Regions from separate parts of the Homo sapiens genome. Here region 2 is linked to region 1. The links come from fine-mapping of genetic effects on gene expression. A gene starts in region 1. The other region holds a variant in brackets. All regions are shown on one strand. Distances are between the middles of the regions. Region 1 holds the start of STX11 (syntaxin 11). Region 2 overlaps STX11 (syntaxin 11).

Region 1 (4,394 bases):
AATTAAAAATGTCATCAGCAAGCACCCTCACAGACACACCCAGGATAATGTTTTACCAAATATCTGGGCACCCCATGGTCCAATAAATTTGACACATCAAATTAACCATCACAGCTTTCTAACTCGTTGGCCTGTTTTAATCTTTGTCCTTTAATCTGTCCTCAACAAAACGGTAGATTAAAAAAACAACCAGCAACATCATTTAGCTTCTCTGATAAACATTCTTCAGTCTTCCTGTCTCAATCAATGTAAAATGTAAAGACTATCATGACTACCAATGCCCTACATGCTCTACTCCCCACTCCTAGCCCCACCACCATCACTCTTCCTGGACTCTGTTTTGCCCACGCTGATATTTCTCCCAGAAGCCCAGCATGCTCCTGCCTCGGGGCCTTTACATCCACTGATTCCTAGGCTTGAAATGATCTTAATCCCAATAGCTGCATTGTTTCCTCCCTCAATGATTCTCTTATCTTAGATGGCTTTGCAATATACCCATTTTTAAAAATATAACATACCTCATCCCTCTTATTTTACTTTCTTTTAAAATAAACTGTATTTTTTAGAACCGTTTTAGATTTACAGAACAACTGCAAAGGTAGTACAGAATTTCCATAAATTCCATTTCAGATTTCCCTATGATTACCATCTTACATTACATTCCTCACAACTAATTAATCAACCTTGATTCTTATTACTAATGAAAGTCCATGCTTTATTTAGATTTCCTTAGTTTTTCCCCAAGTCCTTTTTCTGTCCCAGGATCCCATCCAGGATACCACATTACATTTAGTTTTCACGTCTCCTGAGTTTCTTCTAGGCTGCGGCAGTTTTTCAGACTTTCCTTATTTTATTTTATTTTTTGTAGAGACAGCATCTGGCTATGTCGGCCAGATCAGGCCTCGAACTCCTGGCCTCAAGCAATCCTCTCGCTTCAGCCTCTCAAAGTGTACGGATTACAGGCGTGAGCCACGTCTGGACTGTACTTTCCTTACTTTTGATAACCTGACAACTTTGAGGAATATTGGTCAGGTATTTTGTAGGATGTTCCACTACTGGAATTTGTTTGATATTTTTCTCATTATGAGACTGAGGTTATGGTTTTCCAGGAGGGAGACCACACATGTAATATGCCACATTCATCACATCATATTGACTACATGCCATCAATGAGTCACGATTGTTGACGTTGGCTTAGAACATCTGGCTGGGGTAGTGTCTGTCGGCTTTCTCCATTGTAAACCTACTGTTTTTCCCTTTCCACATTGTACTATTTTGGAGGAAGTCACTGTGCACAGCCTAGGGTACATGATCTACATAAATTATTTGGAATTATTCTGTATAGGAGATTTGTCTCCTCTCCGCCTTTTATTTATTTATTCAATTATTTATTTATATCAGTGTAGACTCATGGATTTTTTTACTTTGGCTTGTAATCCAATACTACCTTGTTTAGTTTACTTCGTTGCTCAAATGGTTCCATCTTTGGCAACTGGGAGCTTTCAGGTGGTTCCTGTGTCTAAACATTCTGCCATCAAGGCAGGATTCGTTCTTTAGTTTTATTTTTTTTCTTCTCATTCAATTGAGACAGCGTCTCATTCTGTCGCCCAGGCTGGAGTACAGTGGCGCGATCTCGGCTCACTGCATCCTTGACCTCTCAGCCTCAAGTGATCCTCCCACCTTAGCCTCCCGAGCAGCTGGGATCACAGCGTGCGCCACCACGCCCAGTTAATTTTTTTATTTTTTGTAGAGATAGGCTTTCACCACATCGCTCAGGCTGGTCTCAAACTCCTGGGCTCAAGAGATCCTCCCCCTTCGGCCTCCCAAAGTGTTAGGAATACGCGCGTGAGCCACCGCGCCCGGCCCGATTTTTCCTTTTTTGAGTATCACTTCCTTACTTTTCAGCCTCAGCCTTGTTTTTCAAGGTGCTTTACCACCACCTGGCACAATCCACACTTTCTATTTATCCCTCCCCGTTAAAGTGCCGGGACCTGGAGGGTGGGTCTTGGCAGTATTTTTGAGCGCGGTGGGCACACAAGGGGACGCTCAGTTGATATCCAGAGAATGATGAGCCCGGCGGGTGTTGAGGCCGACTGGAGAGAGGTTGGTCGGCAGGGTTCTGGGAAGGCGGTGCTCGGCCTCCGTGTGACCGCAGGCTCCTCGCCCGCGTCCTCGAGGGTCCCAGGGATGCAGGACCTGCCGCAGCTTCCGCAGCCACACCCACGCTCAGAGACGGCTTCCAGCGTCCTCGCCGCGGCAACGCACCGGACTGCAAATGTCACCAGCGCAGCGGGGATTCCCGGGGGAAGTCCAGCGCGCTCCCTGCCCTGGGGACCAGAGGACGAGCGGAGGAAGTGTCTTGGGCGGCAAACATCCCACTCCCCGCGCCGGTCCGCGCAGCCCGCGGGAACGCCCCTGGGCTTGCGGGAGGGGCTGGAGCGCGTCCCCGGCTCCGGGCGGTCCCGAGCGCATGGACTCTGGGTGGGGCGGGAACCCGCGCTCTGTGAGCCGGCTGCCGCCGCGCCCCAGCGCTGTCATCCCGGGGCGGGGCCTGGTCCCCAGCTGTGGTCGCTTCCTAAGCGGCGGGGGCTGAGCCGGCGGCGCCCAGATGCGGCCGCGGCGGCGCGGAGCTCGGGCGGCCGTGGAGGAACTCAGCCTCGGCCGCAGGAGGCGCCGGGAGCGGAGCCGCCGGGAGTCGCGCAACAGGTTTCCTTCTCCATCGCTGCGCCCACAGGGGACGCGCGCCCTGCCGGGAGAGGGGCTTCTCGGTTCGCACTCTCGCTCCCAGTCCAGGTTTGTTTTTCTCTTCCTGAGCCCCCATTTCTCTTCCTGACTATTTTCCCCGTGCGCGGAGAGATCGGGGAGGGCGGGTCGGGGCGGGGGCACTGTCTAGGCTCGGGACCCGCGGCTGTGCCTTAGGTGGGATTTTGGATCTGGCGCAGGTCCTCACGCCGCCTCTGGGCACCTTCGGAAACACAGCATTGGGTTTCTCATATAAAGCAGAATGATTTTTTAAAATTACTTTTAATTTCAGAGGCTGAGGGACTTAGGATTTAGTGCTTCGTAAGAATTATTTTAGGGATACCTGTTGGTAGGCTGCCTTTATAAAGTGTCCACCCAAGACTACTTTTATTTTAAATCGAAAGGCTGGAGTGTTTTTTTATTATCACCTCTTCACTTCCTAGTAGGGTGACTGTGTCAAAAACACCAGAATGGGTACTTCTTGACTTGAACTTGGCGGTGTCACTCAGTAGCCAGGAAAGACGGAGAAATTGATAGAGCCTTCGAGGAGTCCCTTCGAAGCCCACGTAAGACTTTGTTTTAGAAACATGGAGAGAAGTAGTGGCAATGCCTGCGAGAGCCACGCCGTCCTGAGAGGGAATTCTGCCTTTTTCTAGACTCCGCTGACACCAGCTGAGATCTGTATTACTTCCTGTGGTTCTCACGCACTTGTTTCAGCCGTTTCTCAGCAGAGGGAGGAGCTGTTATTTACAGGTATCCAAAAATGAGTCACAGGGCTGCTCTCTTAATTGTGAGACTTTGTTAATGAACTTTTGAAAAGCGAGGCTTGCTTTAAAATGAGACTCTAGATGTGAAATGCCTGCCCTGCCAACCTGGGGCAGTGGTATGGGAAGTGACGATTGAGTTTTCAGTTTCCTAAGGCGCCTGATGTTACAACATGCCAGTAAAGGTCACTGGGCTGATCTAAGATAACCATTGAAATCATGTGCTTTGCCACAGATGCCCAAGAGAAAATTAATTTCATTATTCAATGACCATTTTGCTGTCATTTTCACTGCATGGGAGAAAGGTATCATTTAATGTGGTGATTGTAAGTAACTCTCTAAAATCAAAATATTTCAGACAGTTTGTGTTTACTAAATTGGTGCTAAAACCACATGATGATTTTTGAAGCGGGTGGGTCCCAGCGGGAGCAGAGAAATTTAAAAGTTGAAGCTGACAAGTCCTATTGCGGTGGGTAACAGCCCTTAGGAAGGGACTGCACACTATCTCAACACGGTAGAGAAGGGGACACCATCTCTACTGGAGCTGAGTTGAGCTGAATTCAGCCTCAAACAACAGTTACCAGGTACCTTCTCTGTGCCAGCCTCTTCCCTGAACCTTGCTTGTACAACCATGAATAATAGGATCCTGCCGGCAAGGTACTAGGGTAAATCTATACCCAGAGTGAAGTTTCTGTGCCAATATAACTCAATATGCTGGGTCCCAGTGTATTTAAAGAGTAGACTCAGCAGATTATCACCCCTAGATAATTGCGGTCACGATTAGTTGATAGTGTGACTTTTAAGAAATAGTGTGACTAATTAATAGTTTATTTAAATATGCTGGAAAATTCAATATAATGAGATAGGTGCTAGGGTAAATCTATACCC
Region 2 (4,394 bases), 39 kb after region 1:
TCCACTGCAAGCTGCGCGCCATGAAGGAGCTGAGCGAGGCGGCTGAGGCCCAGCACGGCCCGCACTCGGCAGTGGCGCGCATTTCGCGGGCGCAGTACAACGCGCTCACCCTCACCTTCCAGCGCGCCATGCACGACTACAACCAGGCCGAGATGAAGCAGCGCGACAACTGCAAGATCCGCATCCAGCGCCAGCTGGAGATCATGGGCAAGGAAGTCTCGGGCGACCAGATCGAGGACATGTTCGAGCAGGGTAAGTGGGACGTGTTTTCCGAGAACTTGCTGGCCGACGTGAAGGGCGCGCGGGCCGCCCTCAACGAGATCGAGAGCCGCCACCGCGAACTGCTGCGCCTGGAGAGCCGCATCCGCGACGTACACGAGCTCTTCTTGCAGATGGCGGTGCTGGTGGAGAAGCAGGCCGACACCCTGAACGTCATCGAGCTCAACGTACAAAAGACGGTCGACTACACCGGCCAGGCCAAGGCGCAGGTGCGGAAGGCCGTGCAGTACGAGGAGAAGAACCCCTGCCGGACCCTCTGCTGCTTCTGCTGTCCCTGCCTCAAGTAGCAGGCCGGCCCGGGCCGCCACCGCCCATCCCAGACCATGGAGCGCGCTGGGAAGGACGCACCAAAGCCGGGAGCTCTGCCCTGCAGGGAGTTGCCCCAACCCTTTCCGGAACTCAGTCTTTAGAAAAGAAACGCCAGGTTCAAGAATTGCAAACCAGCCTGTGCTTGGAAAGATGGTTAGTTGATACCGTCCGATGATTCTTCAGTAAAGATAGATTCCCACAAAGTTGTGCAATGTCATTATATGACACCTTGCACTCTTACCGTCTTGACAGAAGCCAAGTAAGGAACTGAAGTTGTATCTGACTGTAGGGTGAATGTCTGAGGCCTGCCTCCTAATAAAGACTCAAGGAGGAAGTCAATTGGGCATCTGCTAATAGAATGAACTCATGATGGAAACTTCAGTTCATTTACTTTGTCCTGAAAATTCCCTGGTTCTGTTCCATTTTGAGCGAAATTGGCCTTGGGAAAAACCACGTTCTTCCTTTCCGATTCTTCATCCGGTCTACGCTATGCAATTCCTCCCCAAATATAGATCTTATTTCTGCTCATTTCCCCTACTTATTAAAATCACACCAAACACTTACTATTTTCTTATCTCTTTCACTTTTTAAATATCTTTCACCAGGTTATATTTTGGTATTATTTTTCCAAACATTTTTAAGCACTGAATATCGAACAAGCACTCAAATTGAAGTATCAGTCATGTTTTGTGTATTTTTCGCTGATAAAAATTATTTAACATTTATATTTTTACTTGATTACATATGCACATGTATGTAAATGTAAAATACTAATATTCACTAATATATGTACATAATGATCAATTGGTTTAACTTCTTTTATGTAAGTATGGTATATAAATTTCAAGACGAACACTTTTCTGGCTCTTGGTATTGGTTTGCTTGTTTTGAGTTTGTTTCACTCCAGTTTGCCCCTTCCTAGTCCAGTTTGGGTCAAACTTCATGTTAAACAACTCTGCATTGGTTATGGCGGTAGACATATGGCGGTAGAAAATGTATACGGAGCTAGAGACAACTAACATTCTTGGAAATACTGCTTTTGTTTTACTGTGGACCATTCCTTCCATGCATTGAAATGGAGAAATTCAAAGTAAAAGAATTCTGTTTTTCAAGCAAGCTTAATAAACATTACATTATACACATATTTTTATACATTTCTGGCTTGACCATTTAGTTTACTTTCTCAATTATTGTTAAAATTTTTCTTTTTCCTTTTTTTTTTTTTTTTTTTGAGATGGAGTCTCACTGTGTTGCCCAGGCTGGAGTGCAGTGGCAGGATCTTGGCTCATTGCAACCTCTGTCTCCCAGGTTCGAGCGATTCTCCTGACTCAGCCTCCTGAGAAGTTGGGACTCTGGGCGCGTGCCACAATGTCTGGCTAATTTTTTATGTTTTTAGTAAAGACGGTGTTTCACCGTGTTAGCCAGGATGGTCTTGATCTCCTGACCTCGTGATCCGCCCGCCTCAGCCTCCCATAGTGCTGGGATTACAGGTGTGAGCCACC[A/G]TGCCTGGCCTTTTTTCCCCCCTTTTGAGACAGGGTCTCCCTTTGTCACCCAGGCTGAAGTGCAGTGGCATAATCATGGCTTACTGCAGCCTTAAACTCCCAGGCTCAAGTGATCCTCCCACCTCAGCCTACAAATAGCTGAGACTACAGATATGTGCCACCATGCCCGGCTAATTTTTGTATTTTCTGTAGAGACAGGGTTTGCCATGTGGCCCAGGCTGGTCTCAAACTTGTGAGCTTGAGCAATCCGCCCACCTTGGCCTCCCAAAGTGCTGAGATTACAGGCCTGAGCCACTGACCCTGGCCAAATTTTTTTTCTACTAGCTACTGAGGCTGCCACATCTGGATGGAACTGAGTGGAGGGGGAAAAGAATGAAAAACTCAAAAGAATTCCCATGAGGGTGTCTTGCTTTCTCTCCTGAGTTACAATACTTTAGCAAAATCATGAGGCTTTAGAGATATGGTGTAGTCTGCAAACTTCTTAATGCCCTTACCCACATTTACCATGTTTCCTGGCCTTCCTCTGTGTCAACTCTTAGCTCTTCCTAATCATTATTTAATACATGAGTGAGTTTAGTAGTGATCATATTTCTCAGGTCCTTTAGAAGCTGGAATTTTAAAAGAATTAGAAGGAGGAGTATGTGAATTCTTTGGAGCTCACTGCCTGACTTGCTTATGACCAGGAAAATCTATCCCCTGTATCTAATTTTAATTTCATGGTTAAATTTGAGAATTGTGGAAACCAAGTTCCACAAGGCTATTCTCATATTTCTCCCAATTTCTTTTTCAGCCAACTCCAAGGATATGTATCACCTTTGACTTAATTTGCTTTCTCTAAGGGAAAGGGGAAAAAATGTTCACATAGCTCCACTGCAATGTTTTTTATAATAGAGGAGAGATATTGTAAATAGAGACTGCCAGCCAGTTTCCACAAAAAAACGAAGAGTTCATAAATTTGACATGTTTGAACCCATAAAGCATTTTCTTTGCTTGGAACCATTATAAAAGTAAGTGAGTTTTCAGGCTCTATATACATTTTAATTCCTCACGTTTTATATTGGAGAGTTCGGTACAGACTGTCCATTACTGCACCAAAAGAATGAGTGAACTGTTACCTATAGGGAAAGAACACTTCTTCTTCCTGCTGTTTGGGAACCATCTCAGTGTGGCGTAATGGTTAGGAGTACAGATTCCAGATCCTGTTTCTTAGATTTAAATCTTGACTCTGCCACATACTAGCTGTCTGACTGAACCTTGGTTTTTCTGTGCTTCAGTTTCCTCATCTGTAAAACGGAGATAACAGTACTTACCTCATAGAGCTGTTGTGAAAAGTGATGACTGAATATGTAAAAGCACCTAGAACAGTGCCTGGCACATGCTAAGTGCTTTGTTCATTATTGTTGTTATTATGTAATTTTCTCTCAGACTGAGAGCACTGTTAGTGACCCAAGTAAATTTATAGTTTTTAAGTACAGAGGAAAAATAAAGCCTATTTTTTGTTAACAGTCTTAATAAATAATAAAATGGAATAAAGAAACCAAGACCCCATCTTCTGTGAATATTAGGGCTTTTTTTTTTTTGACAGTCATAAAGATGTTTTCACTATGGCATTTCTATCCCTGTGTATATCCAAACATGTCCTGAAGAAGAAATGAGATGTTCCACCAAAAACACGTAAGCAGGAAGCAGCTGTTCTGCTCAGCTTGGCAGGTGTTCTTTCCTAATTCTTCCCAAGCTGTGAGTCAGAAAGTCCTGGAAGGAGTTGTAGGAAGTTGTAGAGGCTGGGTCACTGACCTAAGAGAAGGCATCATTTGGCCCACTGCACGTCCTGGCCTATTCACCAAAGCCCTTCCTGGCTCTGACTGCCACACCAGGCAGTGGGTGAAATGCTGGCTTTTTCCTTAAGAAATTGTGTTCTAGTGCCACCAAGAGATGCTGTAGAGCTGGCTTTACCAATCTCATGATGCTTGCTTGGCAACTCTGAAAGGTGACTTTGGCCAAGAAGACCTTGTGGCAATTCTGCAAATTTTATACACTCATATCTTTTAGGGTACAAAATGAAAGAACAAATCACAAAGAACAATAGATCCTTCAGGAGCTGAAGGTAAGAATCTTTTATAGCTATTTTAACATATACAGTGACTACTTTCTACTAGCCAAATATCAAATTTTACAACTACCACCAAGCCACAGATTATAGGTGGTAACAACTCCAGAAATGTCCTAACTAGGAAAGGTGCTCATCTAGTATGCATCGGTATCCAGGATAATATGAGTTAGAATTTTAAAAATGTCAGTCATTCA

What was found. PIP is the estimated chance that this variant, and not a neighbour inherited with it, causes the effect.
Region 2: its variant is fine-mapped to the expression of STX11 in blood mononuclear cells (TOPMed, PIP 0.96).

What each region holds. Positions count from the first base shown.
Region 1 is chr6:144,147,911-144,152,304 of GRCh38, forward strand. STX11 (syntaxin 11) reads left to right here and starts at 2,607. Exons shown (of 2, transcript NM_003764.4): 1 at 2,607-2,793. RefSeq lists a silencer at 2,294-2,733.
Region 2 is chr6:144,186,926-144,191,319 of GRCh38, forward strand. STX11 (syntaxin 11) reads left to right here. Exons shown (of 2, transcript NM_003764.4): 2 at 1-4,394. The coding sequence ends at 566. Among named protein-coding and RNA genes, the nearest start is that of TRL-TAA1-1, 27 kb to the right of the region's middle. RefSeq lists an enhancer at 1-48. The variant A/G (reference allele first, on the strand shown) is at 2,091.